Linked DNA regions of Homo sapiens: regions 1, 2 and 3 are each reported to be linked to region 4. The links are microRNA targets in miRTarBase. Many come from high-throughput screens and were not tested one by one. Region 4 holds a microRNA gene; each other region holds the end of a gene's coding sequence.
What was found. Region 4 holds the annotated microRNA hsa-miR-3674 (AUUGUAGAACCUAAGAUUGGCC, at 2,374-2,395, opposite strand). A microRNA usually pairs through its seed, bases 2 to 8, with sites in the 3' UTR of a target mRNA and lowers its output. Matches are read on the target gene's strand: a 7mer-m8 pairs with bases 2 to 8, a 7mer-A1 pairs with bases 2 to 7 and ends in A, and an 8mer does both.

Region 1 (4,234 bases), not on the chromosome of region 4:
CACAATAAAAATGGAAACTTATTTTGTGGAAATCATTTTATGTAAATATGTATTTAATACTTATTTCATCTTTCTTACCTTTCAGAATTACCATGAAATTATGACTCGTCATCCTGAGAATTATCAATGGGAAAACTGGAGTCTAGAAAATGTTGCTACCATTTTAGCCCACCGGTTCCCCAATAGTTATATTTGGGTGATAAAATGTTCCCGAATGCATTTGCACAAATTCAGCTGCTATGACAATTTTGTGAAAAGTAACATGTTTGGTGCCCCAGAACACAATACTGACTTTGGAGCTTTTAAGCACCTTTATATGTTATTAGTTAATGCTTTTAATTTAAGTCAGAATAGTTTATCAAAGAAAAGTTTGAATGTTTGGAATAAGGACTCCATAGCATCTAACTGTAGATCCAGTCCTTCTCATACTACGAATGGTTGCCAGGGAGAAAAAGTGAGGACCTGTGAAAAATCTGATGAGTCTGCCATGAGTTTTTATCCACCATCACTAAATGACGCATCTTTTACTTTGATTGGATTCAGTAAAGGTTGTGTTGTTTTGAATCAGTTGCTTTTTGAATTGAAAGAAGCCAAGAAAGACAAGAACATAGATGCTTTTATCAAAAGCATAAGAACAATGTATTGGCTGGATGGTGGTCATTCTGGAGGAAGCAATACTTGGGTTACTTATCCAGAAGTCTTGAAAGAATTTGCACAAACAGGAATTATCGTTCACACTCATGTAACACCTTACCAAGTACGTGATCCAATGAGATCTTGGATTGGAAAGGAGCACAAGAAATTTGTTCAGATACTTGGGGATCTTGGTATGCAGGTGACTAGCCAAATTCATTTTACAAAGGAAGCTCCTTCCATAGAGAATCACTTCAGGGTTCATGAAGTATTTTGAGATTACAGGTATATTAATGAACTTGTTCAGTGGAAGAACATAAGCACTTTTGAGTGTTATAAATTCAGATAATGGGATGTAATTCATAGCTGCATTGTCAGTTTTGGGGTATGGGGGGAAGCACACATTCCTAAAATGTGAGTGTAATGTGCAATAGTATTTTTTGCTTGTGAATGTGAGCAGTTATTAATTTGGATTGAGTTAGAATTAGTTAATTTGAAATCTAACAAGGTGGTTTGTAATAATGCTGAGGAGATATAAGACCCTTAAAATGAAAGTTACAACATTGTTCTTATAAAAGGTAACTAAAATTGTTACTGTTGGAAATAACTGATTTTCTGAGTAATGTTTTAAACTAATTTGGTGACATTTTAACAGTAATTAGCTATTTTGAGTGGAAATATTTTCATTTCTCTTCAAACAAAAGCAAAGGTACGATGCTGTTTTCTATCATTTTGGAATAACTGCACCCTGCCTTTTGTGTTTTTGTAAACTCCTTGACTCATTCTTTCATGTGTCACCAAGTACTTTTCTCATGAGAGTCAACATATATTTGTTTCCAAATGTCCACAAGTGTACAATAGTGTAAAGGTGGTTTTTAAAAACATAGCCAGGTGTGGTGGCACGTGCCTTTAGTTCCAGCTACTCAGGAGGCTAAGGCAGGAGGATTGCTTGAGCCCAGGCTGTGTGGTTCACCATAATTGTGTTTGTGACTAGCTACTGCACTCCAACCTGGGCAACATAGTGGGACTTCATCTCTAAAACAAAACAAAACAAAATTACACTTAAGCACTATTGTTTAATTTTTAATTGTCAGTTTATCATTATTTTGGGTAAGACATTCTGGGGTTTCTTGAATCTTGTCCAAAAACCAGTTGTTTTGGAAAATTGCTTTAAATTGAGCATATTTATGTATATTGGATAAAAATGTACTACAGAGCAAATTTCAAATTTTTCATTATATCAGTCTTTTTGAAAGGATCAACTTGGATAAAATAAATATATAATGCTCTATTTGTTAGAGCTCTATTAAAAAGGAAACAGATTCCATAGATCTAAGTCAATGTTTCTCCAGAAGCATGATTTTGTCTGCCAAAAGAAAATAGCTCTCTTTGGCCAAAATGCAAAATTACATTGCTATAAGAAAAGTTACAAGGGAAAGTTTGAAGACACAAATGATTTAATTTTGGCTCAAAAACTGAATTTGCTTAACACTGCTACATAATTTGGGTGAAGTTTCCTTCTGCCCGTTTTTCTTGACCTAGATAAATACACTTTGAGAAATCCAGATCTAATAAATGTCAACCAACATTGACATTGTAATTGGGTGATTACAATAAAAGGTGAGCAGTTTGTTGTTTATTAATAATTAGCTTTTGCAGGTAATGAAATAGCAGGGAAGTAACATGCTGCTTTAGGACTAAAAAAAAAAAAAAAAAAAAGACACTGAAGCTTAATACCTTAATGACCCAGAAGACCTAGATTTATAAAGCCATATAGAATAAAAATGTTAATTTCTTGGTTTCTTCCCAGAATTATATTTTAATGACTCCATAAATACATTCCAAATATTCAGAGATTCATGAGAAAGGATTCTTAACAAATGTTTAAAAATAACATTTCTTTTTGGTGTTTTAACACTTAATTTTATAAACTGCAGAACAGCATCTCTAAATGGCTTTTTTTTTTTTTTTAAAGACAAAGTAGTATTATGTTGCTTCAGTTTCTTTAAATACCTCGTTTCTTTTGAGACCAAAAATTCCCATCAAGGAAATAAATCAGCCTGATTTTAACATTTTACATATTACATTGCCTTTAAGCACTATGATTGGATGGCTTTTTTTCTATTTGTTTAATAATCCTTGGCTAAATTCACATGTATCTAAAGGAAAATAGCTGAGTTACTGAATTCTATAAGGGGAAGAAAAAGCATTTATTTTCACATGATTAACTGAAATGGAAAAGTAAGACATTTAGCAGAATAATTCATTTAAAAATAATTTTAAAAAATCAGACATATTTAAAAATCTAGGTTGTCTATCCAGTATGTGAATGCTTAATTATAATTGTTACATGTTGAATGGGTATTAAGAGTAAGTCACCAGGTACACAAAACTGCCATCATAGCAAAATGAGACAGTGTTGAAAAGACAAAATATTTTCTGGAATGAAAATATATTCAAGTTGATCCATATTCAGATGTTTTCTGTTTAATACTTCAGATTGGTCCTTTGTCCACATTTGTTTAAAACTTATTGTAATGTTAATTTACACTTTTGGATTGTGCCTTTGTCATGAGTTGAGAAAAGTAGTCCTACAAATAATGTGAAAGTTGTTACCACCACAGCATGAATGTATAATTGTATTAAAATTGATCATCCACAGAAGTTTGTTTGGATGTGCTTTATATTTATTAGCATTGTTAAAACTTCAGATTATTTATAAAGGAAGCCATTTCTCCACCCTGCTAAGTTGGGTTTGTATACAGTAAGTCCTCACTTAACATATCAGTAGGTTCTTGGAAACTGAGACTTGAAGCAAACTGATATAACAAAACCAATTTTTTTCTCATCATTGTTTTAACTAGATGACAACGAACAAAACGTTGAGGACCTGCTGTTTGTCCTTTTGTTTAAAGTCACAGATTCTAAGAACCTATGCACATTAAGTGAGGACTTACTGTGCATCTTTTCATTATCTTCCATGTCTTTTCAAATGAGCAACTTTGAACCTTTTTTGTACAAATACATACCTTCTCCCTTTAAAATTGCTCCATAAAAATTTGCACTATATCCACTTCTTTTATTGGATTTCATAGAGAACAAAACCTCTAACAAGTTCATCCTTTTCTCTTTTCTGTGCTAATCATCTCAGGGATTTGTAGTCCTTTAGCTTCTTACAAGACTTGGTTAGGGTATGGTGTAATCTATTTTTCATTTCATTCATGTACTATCTAAGTAACCACCAAGGTCAAGGAGGGTCTAGGCAATGAGGATATAGGACAGACAATACAAAGTCCCAGCATGTTGGTATAGAAATGTTTAATACATTAAATCTTATGAGGTAAAATACAAAAGGTAGTATTCATAAAAGAGCTATTTTGTTTTATTTCACTTGAAGTTCTTAAGAGAAAAACATAAGAGGAGATATAGACAGACCTCATCTGTAAACTCATGTTGCTCTTTACAAAGGAAGAGACCCAGCAGCTTTTAAGCCAGTTAGTGGTAGAGACAGGCAAGAGTCACCAAAAAAGGTCATTTTAGTATTCTGTTTAATGGAACTTAGAAAGAGACTACATCGTGGGGTTGGGGGAGGGGGAAGGGA
Region 2 (4,234 bases), not on the chromosome of region 4:
TCAGCTCACTGCAACCTCTACCTCCCAGGTTCAAGCAATTCTCCTGCCTCAATCTCTCGAGTGGCTGGGACCACAGGCGCATGCCACCATGCCTGGCTAATTTTTTTATTTTTAGTAGAGACGGTGTTTCACCATGTTGGCCTGGTTGGACTTGAACTCCTGACCTCAAGGGATCCACCCGCCTGGGCCTCCCAAAGTGCTGGGATTACAGGTTTATATAAGCCACAGTGCCCAGCCAGGGTTTTTCATATTGTGAGAGCCATTTTTCTTTTTACTTGCTACACAAAGCATTTGCATTGTAGGGCGAGACGACCAATTTAAAGAGATTCAGTTAAAAAAAAAAAAAGCTGTGACAAACTCTAGGTGCCTTCCCATTAGCCCCACCCGCACCTCTTGGTATCCAATCCTTCGTATGAGCCTCTCCCCTTGGATATGGGCAGGACCTGAAAAGACCCCTCTTGCTGGCAGCTTGGCTCTCGACACTTGCTGGTAGTGACAGTAATCATGTCAGTGGTCCAGTCAGCAGCCAGGCCATGCAGGGAGCACCCAGCTGGCAAGGAACTAAGCGGGGGCCTCCAGCTGACAACCAGTGAGAGGTCTGGACACTCAGTCCTGCAGTGGCAAGAACTGAATTCTGCCAGCCGAGTGAGGCTGAAATGAGTTCTTCCCAAATCACCAGGTGAGAATGCAGATGAGACCATGAGCTTTCTAAAGGACCTATCTAAACCATGCTCAGACAGAAACTGAGACGCATTTGTTTTAAGCCACTAAATCTATGGTAATTTAGGACATAGCAATAGATAATACTGGTACTATCAACTTCCTTAGTTACCTTGTTAATTTCATAGTAACTGTATTAGGTGGCATCCAGACTATCCCAAATTTAAATACTAACAGTAGTATAAAAAGTCTGGCCCTTTATTACCTTTCCCAGGTAATAAAACAACTGGTTTCTAAAAGTTTGATATGGATTACACCTCTTAGGATTCCTCATAATCCTGTGAAGTAGATATTCCCATTAATTATTTAACTCAAATGACTAACAAGGGGCAGAGCTAGGAACTTGAGAACCAGCATCCAACCCCTGATGCCACCACCCTTCCAACTTTTATAGTTTCCCTAAAGTCTCAATGATGCTTCCCACTATGCCCATAGATAGTAATAAAACCACAGACAGTAAAAAGTACTGGGAACATTTTGTTCTTCCTTTTAAATCCATCTTATCCACTAGATTAATAATTGTGCACATCAGTTAAAATGTCTTTTATTCCAAAGTCTATGTCTCAGTGAAGAGGAATTTATTCCCTTCATGGCTTGTTATTAATACTAAGCACTTAAACTGAGTATATGTGAAAGCCAAAAACATTATTCTTACTGAAGACCTGTCAAACAAAGCCACAAAACAGCTCCTTTTATTTTCTAGTAAGACTAGATTTATTCAATACCCTAGTAAAAGTTTTGATTATAAGTATCCAACAGTATAAAAAGTACAAAACAGATCTGTAGATTTCTAATATATTAATACAAAGTGCATGACTACATACAGTACATCCTACAGGCAAAGAGAGGTGGAAGGGGAAAAAGAAGACTGTGGTTGAGGTCTAGTAATAAATAAATAAATACAGAAGTAGAGATGATCCATATTATAGTATATTCTACCACCAATACTGCAGCCAAAATGTACAAAAAAAATCATTTCAAATAACTCAGGAGGATGATAATGGCTGGACTTTTGTAATTCACCTCAAAGACTGTGGGAGAGCCAACTCAACTCACTGTATAGTCTGTGCATATGGTGGCTTGTAGCATGTAGGTTTTTTCCAAAAGAAGGAAATATAAAATGTTTAGATTAAGAACTATAAAACTACAGGGTGCCTATAAAAGGTGGCTTACTCCTTATTGTTATTATACTATCCAATTTTTAAAATGCAGTTTAAAAAATAAGCACTGAGTCTTGTTATTACAAGGCAGGCAAATGTTTCTCCCTCATTTTGAAAAGACTGAACTGGCAATGCTTTTCCTGAACATTTAGAAAAGAGGCAGTAAGAGTACTCTGGTTTGGGTTCAAGTGAGAGGCTTTTCATGAAAATCTTAGGATTGAAGAGCTCTAAGTTCAGGATATCTCAATGTTCAGAAAGCCTGACTAAAAGAAGCCAAACCAAAACCATTTAATGTGAACACAAACCTCTTTTCTTTTAGTAAGTTTTACTTTTAATACAGAGTGAAAGAAAATAAAAATTTAATAGGCTAAAACAAGTCAAACACCCATTCTACACAGATAAAAACCTTCACAAAGGTCAACTGAAGTAATCCAGAGCTGAAACTGAATTGTGCAGATTTTCAATGAAGTCACAGAAGTCATGTAACACAAACAAAAGTCGATTATATTTACACACTCAGCAAGCCCTCTAAGAAATGTGCCCCAAGAAGCATTAACCTTTGTTTTGTGCCATCCTGAAGACTTGCACATTTTATTTTTCAGATAGCTTAACATTTTTAATCGAGTGTGTTCTCTACCATGCGGTAATGCTTTGGTACTATTCATACAGGGTCTTGCCTATCCTAAAGACTTGCCATTTCCCCAAGAGGAGCTTTGATTCTGCTTTAGAAGTTTTACATAAATTAAAATCTTTATCAAATATTAATATGAAGGGAGGCACAGGATGCAACATATATAGTCAAGTTACCTCTCTGTATATTTAGAAATTACTTTCTCCTCCAAGGTATTTGCAACAGAAAGCTCAGTCTGTCCTGCTTAATAATCAGTAGTACAGGTGTGAATCATCAGAAGCTTGGCAAGACCTTAATATTTCAAAATTATTAACAACTACCTCTAGGGGCAAGTTCATGTTACTGAGTTATGACAAATTTATTATCATGAGGGAAAACAAGAGTAGCCAGCCATCTTAAAAATGCCCCAACCACTGCTTCTCAAAACAGAAAGACTAAAAACTACATACAGTTTATCATACAACAAATCCCATCTCTGTCCCCTGAAATTCCCCTAGTTTCATTCATTAGAAGGGGATTAAAAAAAAAAAAGACTTAAAGAGCACTTTACAGCAGCATTCAGCTTTCCTATGAAATACTCAGCATCTTAAATATTATATACAACTCTTTTTTTAGTAAGCTAGACACTGGCTTCAGAGTTTGTGGGAGTGGGGGAAATCAACCCATTCAAAACTACTCTAGAAATTGTCTTTTGGCAGAATAGCAGGTATCCAAGTTAAAAATAAGAGGGTCATTTAAGACCAGCCTGGCCAACGTGGTGAAACCCCGTCTCTACTAAAACTAAAAAATTAGCCGGGTCTGGTGGCGGGCACCTATAAACCCAGCTACTTGGGAGGCTGAGGCAGGAGAATCACTTGAACCCGGGAGACGGAAGTTGCAGTGAGCCAAGATCACGCCACTGCACTCCAGCCTGGGTAACAAGAGCAAAACTCCGTCTCAAAAAAAAAAGAGGGTCAGTTTGTAGCTTTGTGGTTTTTCAAAATTCAGATATTTTTTTTTTTGTTCCCCTTCTACATAAAAACCTCAGTCACCACTCCTGAGTGGAGATGGGCAGAGGCTCTGGCCCCTGCTCCTCTGGCTTCTCAGCAGCTGCTTTCTTATTGCTGCAGCAAGGCTTGAAGAGATGTGTGTCAATGAGGACTTCCCCAAAACGGCCTTTATAGATGATCCCACAACATATCTTCTGTCTAAAAGAAAAAATGGAGAACAAGATACATTAATAAGGAAGAAAAATAGGAATACAAAAGAAATCTACTCACTATTATAACTAGTCCAATATAACCAAAGAGTTGTGCTTCTACAATCTTGCACATTCCAAGTGAAAGGGCTCCTAGAGTAACCCCAATTAGCTAGAGAAGGGGAATTACCCAGTTGCCTTAAAGGCCACACTGGAATCTTCTCAAATATTGAGGAAGACGGCATTTTGAAAGACAGCAGTCAGTTTCAAAGGCTGCCCCTGATGTTGTTAACTATTTCCTCCAAAATCACCAACTCTTGAAAAAAAAATCAGCCACCATAAACAGGCTGATGCAGCTAGCAATTTTTTATATATATTTAATTTTTTTTCTTTATCAACTCCTAAGTGCTTGAGTGGTAATTTTTAATTAAATACTGAGTAGATAAAAATACATGTGTGGGCCGGGTGTGGTGGCTTACACCTGTAATCCCAGCAGTTTGGGAGGCTGAGGTGGGCAGATAACTTGAGGTCAGGAGTTCGAGATCA
Region 3 (4,234 bases), not on the chromosome of region 4:
ATTTGACAGTAGAGATACATAAACAATTCATATTCAGTAAGATAAAATGTATCAGTCCACAAAACATTTTCATCTTTTTAAGTATAAAAGAATCAATGTTCAACCACCACCATGTGTGAAGCCCCTTTTTCCAAATTAAACTTACTCTAGAATCATGAATTGAAGATTATTCAGTCATGGCACTTTACACCCCAAACGAGCAAAAGTAACAAGTTAATACCCTCCCTGAGTATTTACATCATCTTATCACCTGGTTTAAATGGAGTAAATACCTATATTTCAATCATCTAGGAAATAAAAAGGTTACTGAAGATCCAATACACTAGTATTTCATACCTGTGCAGTAAAGTCAGTGGGAAGATTACAGTAGAAAAGGAGGAAGTTCTACTGTTGTAAAAATTAGACCACTTTTGTAGCTGACTCACATAGAGGAAAAACAGAAAATGATTAAAGTTCATGAAAAAAAAACTATACTTTTCTGTTCTACAAAGCATACCTTTGAATTCCCTTTCCAACTGAGGTATCACAGCTGGGTTTAGCAAACTCATCTCTTCTGACCTTGTAAAACTAAATTGTCATAAAGATTCTGATTATACATAAGTCATCGTTACTAATACTCATCATGTACTTTCAAATGTAAAAAGTTCTAGAAATGCCCAAATAAAAAAAAATTCCAGAATTGAATTTAGCATGGTCAACTAATTTTTACTTTATGTGCTTTTTTGCTGATCATCACAGACTGCTAAAATTCATGGTGTTTGGTATATATGTGTGTATACAACCATACTATCTACATACATACACATGTACATATATAGATTCTAAACCAAAGGTTCATATGAGCATCACCTATCAAAAGAAAAATCTTTATGTGATGAGAGAATGAATACAATCTGACACCAATTTGGTTGATATACCCCTTTTGATATATTAATTCTACTCTAAAATTCTTTTTTATTTTATCAAGTCTAATGCTATTATTTATCAAGAATTAGTAAAGGAAGATAAATATTAAAAAATTAAAATATTAAGTTGGGTAACTTTAAAAATAGTTATTTAAATTTTCTAAGATTCAACCTAAGTTCTTGGTGGCCTTCAATATAAATTTTAAGTACTTAATTTATGTAGTTTTAAATTATGTAGAGAAAAAATTAATATTGGTGTGAGGTCTGTGTTTAAAAAAATTCTGTTTTTCAGGATTTCATTTCAAATTTACTATAATAAACACATGGATATTAAAATAAATGTATAACAAAATAAAAGTAAATAGTTAATACTTTTTACAACAGAAAAATACTAGAATATAAAGTTGTCTTGAGAAAGTCTTTTTTTATGTGAAGTCCTATATTCATGAAATGGACATGATCTTACAAATACACATGAAAATAACAACTATCATTTGTAGAATCCTCAGCATTTACAAAATACTTTTTCACACATTATCTCATTTACTGTAAAGAATTTCTTAACTAAATAATTCTATTATCTATAAGAGTATAATGCAGATGTTTACTCTAAAATTAAAGTACAAGTATCCAAACTGTACCTACATTCTTTCAACTAAGAGGATAGAAAATTGTTTTCTGAATTGTTGTTATCACAAAATGGTATCTATCATTTTAAAATTATGATTTGAAAAATAAAAATTCCCTAAAAATTTTTAAGTTTTTTAGAGTTTTCCTCAGAATGTAGATTCTAGCTAAGCATTAAAGTTTAAAAAATGTCTATCTGAAATCTCTGAATCATTCTAAAATGAGAAAACAATGTAGCTTACCAATGTTAGGCTTTTTATTTCAACCTTGGTTTTAACAGAAATCTGGTGACACTTTAATTACATATTTGCATCATCCCTTCTATCACAAGAAATATACAAATTATAATGTGAAAGACAACAGTGACTGGAAGTCAAACTACAGCAGGCTACCTAGAACATCCCTAAATGTTGTAAATTATATCCGTCCACCCAGAATCACAATAATCACTTATGCTGTAGTTCCTGCCATATCCATTTATTTGCATTAGAAAAAAAATTCACATTCCTCTCTGAAAACTGATAAGCTTTATAAAGTGGAGTTGAGAAATCTAGACAAAAGCAGTCTGTTGTACAGAAGCTTGAAAATGTTGATTAGTATTTTACACAATGGGGACCAAATGAAAGACTTACCTTAAAGATGGGAACTACTGCTAAGTTTTTTCAGATAACTAATTTTAAAAGAAAAATGGACCCACTGAGATAGGTGGTCCCTGCTTTATCCTATTAAAGGTACCTTAACAGTAGAGACTCTCAGGAATTTTAGCTGTTCACTAGAAAGTGGGATAATCAAGGAAGAGGTCCTCACCCAAAGCACCATACTAATGAGGTCAAACTCTACTGGGCTAGGAAGGAAAACCTATCCCTATTTTTCTTTTTCTTTTCTCTTGAGACAGTGTCGCAACCTGTTGCCCAGGCTAGGGTGCCGTGTGCGTTCATAGCTCACTGTAGCCTCAGACTCCTGGGCTCAAGCAATCCTCCTGCCCCAGCCTGCTGAGTAGTTGGGAGTACAGGTGTGAGTCTCTGTACCTGGCTGTCTGTCCCTGTTTTTCACAAAACAATATTGCAAAATGGGTTTCCACTGCTTTATCAAGTTAAGAAAAGAGGCTTTCTTAGAGGATTGAAGAGATGATGCATAAAAACTTTGAGAGCCATAGTGGGTCATTTTTCCTTCAAAGGCCATTCCATTTTTCTCTTAGGAATTAACTTGTAATTTTAATCCCCCTTGTAGGGGCACTTATTTTTCTATCTCCTACCTAACTTCCCCCTAAAAACATGTTTAATGTAAGACAGCAATTCTAAGAATAAAGTCACAATAGTTCAGTATTTTATGATGCCTGAATTGTTGTCATTACATTTTTATCAATTACAGAAAAAAACCCTTCAATAAAATTAACCAATCTGGATATACTTTGTTAACAACAAAGGTTTTTAAAACTGATTTTTTCTCCTAGAATGCATCCTAAGCATTAACTTCTTCAACCTAAATGATGCCTCAAGTCATGCAATTTTCTCTACATATATGACAAAATAAGGAATATACATACAGATAAACATACATAATAAGTGAAGACACCATTCACACGCTCCTAAAAGGTATGCAGACAGACATTTCCTAATTCACATAGACTTCTTACAAATACTTACAAAGGTACACTCTTCAAAGGCCAAGTAACAACCACCATTACCTTTAACAAAAAAGTTTTTTTTTTCAATTATAGGAAAGGCTTTATTATAGTTTGAAAGATTGATATTTTGAGGAGAAAGGCACCAAATTATTATTTTTACTATTTTTTGCATATGGCACAAAGGAGATATGTGAAGTTCCCACTGTAGAGTTTTTAAAACCTCCCATCTTGGATCAGTGTGGCTTCTTCGGTGAGGTATCCTGTCTTCAGAGTTTAAAGCATTTCTCATTGTATCTATGAATAGTCACACAGCCATGATAGGACACTGGCCTGGGCATTGCAGCTACCCCTGTGATGATACTTGTTGCAGGATCATAACAGAGAATAGTGTCTGTGGCTTCTCCATTTTCCCGTCTTCCGCCCAGGATATATATTTTACCATTACACACAGACATACCACAGTTTTCCTGTTTAACCAAATATATAAACAAAAAATTAACCATTGAAGATAAAGGATTTGGTAACAAACAGAAAAGCAAAATAATGCTTTAGCACAGTCAAAAAAAAGGGAGACATGATAAAAGCTAAGGTCCTTTGGCCCAACTCTGCTCTCTGTGTTCTGTGTAAGCGCTGGACAACTTTGCATGAATGAAATGAATTTCAAGATAGATGCTATGTCAGTAGCAGCCACAAGAAATAACGAGATCATGTCCTTTGTAGGGACGTGGATGGAGCTGGAGGCCATTACCCTTAGCAAACTTACACAGGAACAGAAAACCAAATACTGCATGTTCTCACTTATAAGTGGGAGCCAAATGATGACAACACAGGGACACATAGAGGGGAACAACACACACACGGGCCTTTCAGAAGGTGCAGAGTTGGGGGAGGAAGAGGATCAGGAAAATTAATGGGTACTAGGGCTTAAGAACTGAATGATGAAACAATCTGTACAACAAACCCCCATGACACAGTGTACCTATGTAACAAACCTGCACTTGTGCCCCTGAACTTAAAATAAAAGTTAAAAAAAAAAAAGATTATATGTTAGTAATTGGGGCCAAGATGTGGGAGG
Region 4 (4,578 bases):
CATGGTGAAAACCCATCTCTACTAAAAATACAAAAATTAACCAGGTGTGGTGGCAGGCACCTGTAATCCCAGCTACTCGGGAGGCTGAGGCAGGAGAATCGCTTGAACCCGGGAGGTGGAGGTTGCAGTGAGCCAAGATCACGCCACTGCACTCCAGCCTTGGCAACAAAACTCTGTCGCAAAAAAAAAAAAAAAAAAATCAGATCTCGTGAGAGTTATTCACTATCGCGAGAACAGCATGGGGAGAACCGCCCCCATGATCCAGTCACCTCCGGCCAGCTGTGTCCCTGGGGACTGCAATTCAAGATGAGATTTGGGTGGGGACACAAGGCTAACCATATTACTTGCCAAGGTTAAGGATGAGCCCGTGACACAGCCTCAGGAGGTCCTGACCACATGTGCCCAGGGTGGTCGGGGCACAGCTTGGTTTTATACATTTTAGGGAGACGTGAGACATCAATCAGTAGGTGTAAGATGCACATTGGTTTGGTCTGGAAAGATGGGACAACTCAAAGTGGGGGCTTCCAGGTCACAGGCAGATAAGAGACAAACAGTTGCATTCTTTTGAGTCTGGGATTAGCCCTTCTTTCACCAAATACACAATTTACATGTGAAAGGGGGGTAGAGGAACAGTCACTCTTGCCTTAGTCTGGCTTAGTGAATCTGCATTTTTTTCTTATTTTTTAGAGACAGGGCCTGGCTACATGGCCCAGGATGGTCTCAAACTCCTGGACTCAAGCAATCCTCCTGCCTCAGTTTCCTAAAGTGCTGGTCTTACAGGTGTGAACAACTATGCCCAGCCTGCATCTGCAGTTTTAAGTAAAATGGGAGGCGGGATTCCCTGATGCAGTTCCCAGCTTGATTCTTCCCTTTGGCTTAGTGACTTGGGGTCTCGAGATTTATCTTCCTTTCACAAGAGCCTGTGGTTCCACCGTAAGGACTGGAGTGGCCGATGCAGGGGGAGGAGTTTTGGGTGTGGCCACAGAGGCAGCTCCCAGCAAAGGCTGGCCACTGCATCCCCCTTCCTCACTCTGACTCCAGTCTTTCTGGCCATGAAACTTGACCTCTGTCATTTCAGGGGTTTCTTGTGGCCCCTCCACCCAGGCTAGCCCAGCTGAGCCCTCGAGGCTCCTCCTGCACCCTAGGCCTTGTTCCTATCACTTCCAGAGCCTGTCTGGTCAGTCCGAAGGTCTCTGTGTTAATGTTAATGCCATCGGCTGTTCCTGACCCCAAAGGGAGAGGATACAATGAGGCGTATCAGACCCTCCCCTTCCCGTCCGGCCTGACTTGTTTTTCAGGTTTGTTTGGAATCCTCTTGGCCAAGAGTAGGGGTCCATTCAGTTGGATGGGGGGCTTTTGGTTTTCGGAATTTTATTTTTGGTTTAAAACGGATGCTCACATGGGAGCCTGGGCCCAGAGCGGCCCAGGAAAGCACGTTCCAATGCTCCCTGCAGTGATCTAATGCGCTCAGAAGGTGGGAATGACTGTTCTAGTTCCCAGAGCCCCTTTTGCAGGGGACAGATGCTGGTGTAGAGTCCATGGTGCATTCAAGTCATGTTTCCTGCCCATTCCATCCGAGTGCAGTAGCCTCAGTATCTCATGCTACTAAAGTGATTGTCCAATCACTGTCACCGCCTGAAGGCTGGCTACAAAATTAAGAAATTAAAACTCCTGCCCACTGCACAGAGAAAACCAATTCACTGAAACCATGGTGTTGCAATAAAGAAAGTTTAACTGACACGAGGCCAGCCACGCCACGTGGGAGATGGAGTTATTCCTTTCATGCGCGTCCGTGTGAAGAGACCACCAAACAGGCTTTGTGTGAGCAAAATGGCTGTTTATTTCACCTGGGTGCAGGCGGGCTGAGTCCGAAAAGAGAGTCAGCGAAGGGAGATAAGGGTGGGACCGTTTTATAGGATTTGCGTAGGTAAAGGAAAATTACAGACAAAGGGGGTTTGTTCTCTGGCGGGCAGGAGTGGGGGTCGCAAGATGCTCAGTGGGGGAGCTTTTTGAGCCAGGATGAGCCAGGAAAAGGACTTTCACAAAGTAATGTCATCACTTAAGGCAAGGACCAGCCATTTACACTTCTTTTGTGGTGGAATGTCATCAGTTAAGGTGGGGCAGGGCATATTCACTTCTTTTGTGATTCTTCAGTTACTTCAGGCCATCTGGGCATATACGTGCAAGTCACAGGGGATGCGATGGCTTGGCTTGGGCTCAGAGGCCTGACCATTACTTAAATCAATTTCCCTGAAAATTTGGAGGCTACTGTATTTCAAGGGTAGTTTAGCAGGCCAGGGAGTCCGCTTCTGAGTGGGGCCACAGGATCAGTCGGACATCAGAAATGCAAAAACTTGAAAGGACATCTCAAACGGCCAATCTTAGGTTCTACAATAGTGATGTTTATCTGCAGAAGCTGCAAATCTTGTGACCTCCAGAGTAATGGCTGGTCGTCGTTTACATCTATATTTTAGCAGAATCCAGGCTCCTCTCATCCTCCTAACCTACTGGCCTTTCATTAGCTTTACACAGGCAGTTCAGTTCGGGAGAAGGGCTATTATCGTTTAAACTATAAATATCTTCCAAAATTAGTTTGGCCCAGGCCTAGGAGTGATGAAAGACAGTTTGGAGGTCAAAGGCAGGATGGGGGTTGGTTAGATCAGGTATCTTTCAACGTCATAGTTTTCTCACTGCTGTAATTTCTGAAAGGTGGTTTCATCACTTCCAAGAGGGTAGAAGACATGTCCTACTCTGGCGGCAATTCCTGCGGGTGGCTGAAGGACTGAATCTGCACAGAGCGGCTGTCAGAGGCCAGTGCGTTCTCTGCTCCTTGTGTTCCTATCACCCAACTCTCCTGTAAGCCAGGCAATAAGAGACGGGAGAAAAACATCCTCATGCAAAGCAGCCGGACCCAAAATGAAGAAATGAAAAGATCAGTGGATCGTTAAGACCCGAAGTCAAATTTTTAACATGCCCCTGACTTTGTGGTTTTAAACTTGCCTGTTTGAGACATGTAAATACTCACTGATTTATAAAAACACCAGTCATCAGGCGTGCCAGTTTGATTCCAGAGAAAACAGTAGAGAGTGCCTTATCGGGAAGAACAAATGGCTGCCCTTATCTAGACGCTTTCACTTACTGCATGGTTCAGCACACGGCATTTTCATGATATGCAGAAACCATCTTCATAAAAAGTAATTTTCCACTTGCCCAATTAAATAACTGTCAAAGCGTATTTCCGAGGAAATTACACTGCATTGTTCTTAACTTTGCTTAGTTGTTAAAAAAAAGTTGACATTTTATTGTGAAATAAAACATATGCAGAAGAATTCACAAATCACACATTTACTAAATGATTATAAAGCAAATAGCTATGTAACCAGATCACAAGCAGAGCCCTGCCAGCACCCCAGAACCCCCACGGATCCCATCCTAACCACAGCCCCATTCCCTCATTGGGAAATGTGTTTGGTTTTATTTGCAAGCCAACCCATAACCTCACCTCATGTTCCAAGAAAGTCCCACAGTGATATGAGGCCAATCTGTTCAGCTATTTTTATAGGGAATTCTTTACCGCCTAAATCCAAAATACTTCCAAAATACTTCCCACTTCTGGGAGCCTGGAACTCACTCCCACGCTCTTGGCCTCATCCAGGGAGGAGCTTTCTCGCAAACCTGTCGCTCCAGGTCCTAAGAAACCAGATTTTATTAAAAGATTGGGTTTAGGACAATTAGGTAACTGATTAGTCTATCACAGTTGTCTGTGACAAGAACATAAATATTAGAGTTGAGACGTCAATTTTGTGAATAAAACCAAGCAGAAACCCTAACAAAGGCAAGAAGGGGTTTGTTTAGATCAGATGCAAGGGCTTCTGGTCCAACAGGCAGACAGAGCCCTCATGTCCATCCATTTCCTGCTGAAACCTGGCTAAAAATATTTAAGTGTTGAAAGTAGAGAAAGAAGATAGAAGGCATGGCCGGGTGTAGTGGCTCACACCTGTAATCCCAGCTCTTTGGGAGGCCGAGACAAAAGGATTGTTCAAGGCCAGGAATTCAAGGCCAGCCTGGGCAACATGGTGAGACCCTGTCTCCATTTAGAAGAAAAAGAAGAAGAAGAAGAAGAAGAAGAAGAAGAGGAAGAGGAAGAGGAAGAGGAAGAGGAAGAAGAAGAAGAAGAAGAACAAGAATTGGAGGAGGAGGAGGAGGAGGGGGAGGAGAAGGAGGGGGAGGAGGAGGAGGGGGACGGGGAGGGGGAGGGGGAGGGGGGAGGGGGAGGAGGAGGAGAAGAAGGAGGAGGAGGAGAAGAAGAAGGAGGAGGAGGAGGAGAAGAAGAAGGAGGAGCAGGAGGAGGAATACAATGGTCCAGTGCCAAGACAGTGAAAGGCAGAGGGCCATGGCAAAGTCTGAGGGCTGGAGGCAGATGGACAGATGATGGACGAATGGGCACCGGTGAGGCCAACCAGAGGAGGCTACCGGAGCTACAGGGAGAGCCTTTCAGGCATCTCTGAAAGGGGACATCAGGCGAGGCTGAAAGCAGGAGGCACAGGATCACCAGGTCCTGCTCCACACCCAGGAGGG

Region 1: the mRNA of C2orf69 is a reported target of hsa-miR-3674. Seed matches in the 3' UTR shown: 7mer-A1 at 3,225-3,231.
Region 2: miRTarBase lists SINHCAF as a target of hsa-miR-3674. Seed matches in the 3' UTR shown: 7mer-A1 at 3,469-3,475.
Region 3: miRTarBase lists KLHL24 as a target of hsa-miR-3674. Seed matches in the 3' UTR shown: 8mer at 1,399-1,406 and 7mer-A1 at 410-416.

What each region holds. Positions count from the first base shown.
Region 1 is chr2:199,924,977-199,929,210 of GRCh38, forward strand. C2orf69 (chromosome 2 open reading frame 69) reads left to right here. Exons shown (of 2, transcript NM_153689.6): 2 at 86-3,297. The coding sequence ends at 910. It overlaps TYW5 (tRNA-yW synthesizing protein 5), which reads right to left. Exons shown (of 8, transcript NM_001039693.3): 8 at 3,937-4,234. Among named protein-coding and RNA genes, the nearest start is that of C2orf69, 16 kb to the left of the region's middle.
Region 2 is chr12:31,279,174-31,283,407 of GRCh38, forward strand. SINHCAF (SIN3-HDAC complex associated factor) reads right to left here. Exons shown (of 6, transcript NM_001135812.2): 6 at 1,411-3,698. The coding sequence ends at 3,539. Among named protein-coding and RNA genes, the nearest start is that of FLJ13224, 43 kb to the right of the region's middle. RefSeq lists a silencer at 1-76.
Region 3 is chr3:183,678,478-183,682,711 of GRCh38, reverse strand. KLHL24 (kelch like family member 24) reads right to left here. Exons shown (of 8, transcript NM_017644.3): 8 at 1-3,626. The coding sequence ends at 3,426. Among named protein-coding and RNA genes, the nearest start is that of YEATS2, 17 kb to the left of the region's middle.
Region 4 is chr8:1,798,950-1,803,527 of GRCh38, reverse strand. It overlaps MIR3674 (microRNA 3674), which reads right to left and starts at 2,403; the gene lies at 2,336-2,403. RefSeq lists enhancers at 457-1,117, 1,778-2,439, 2,273-3,472.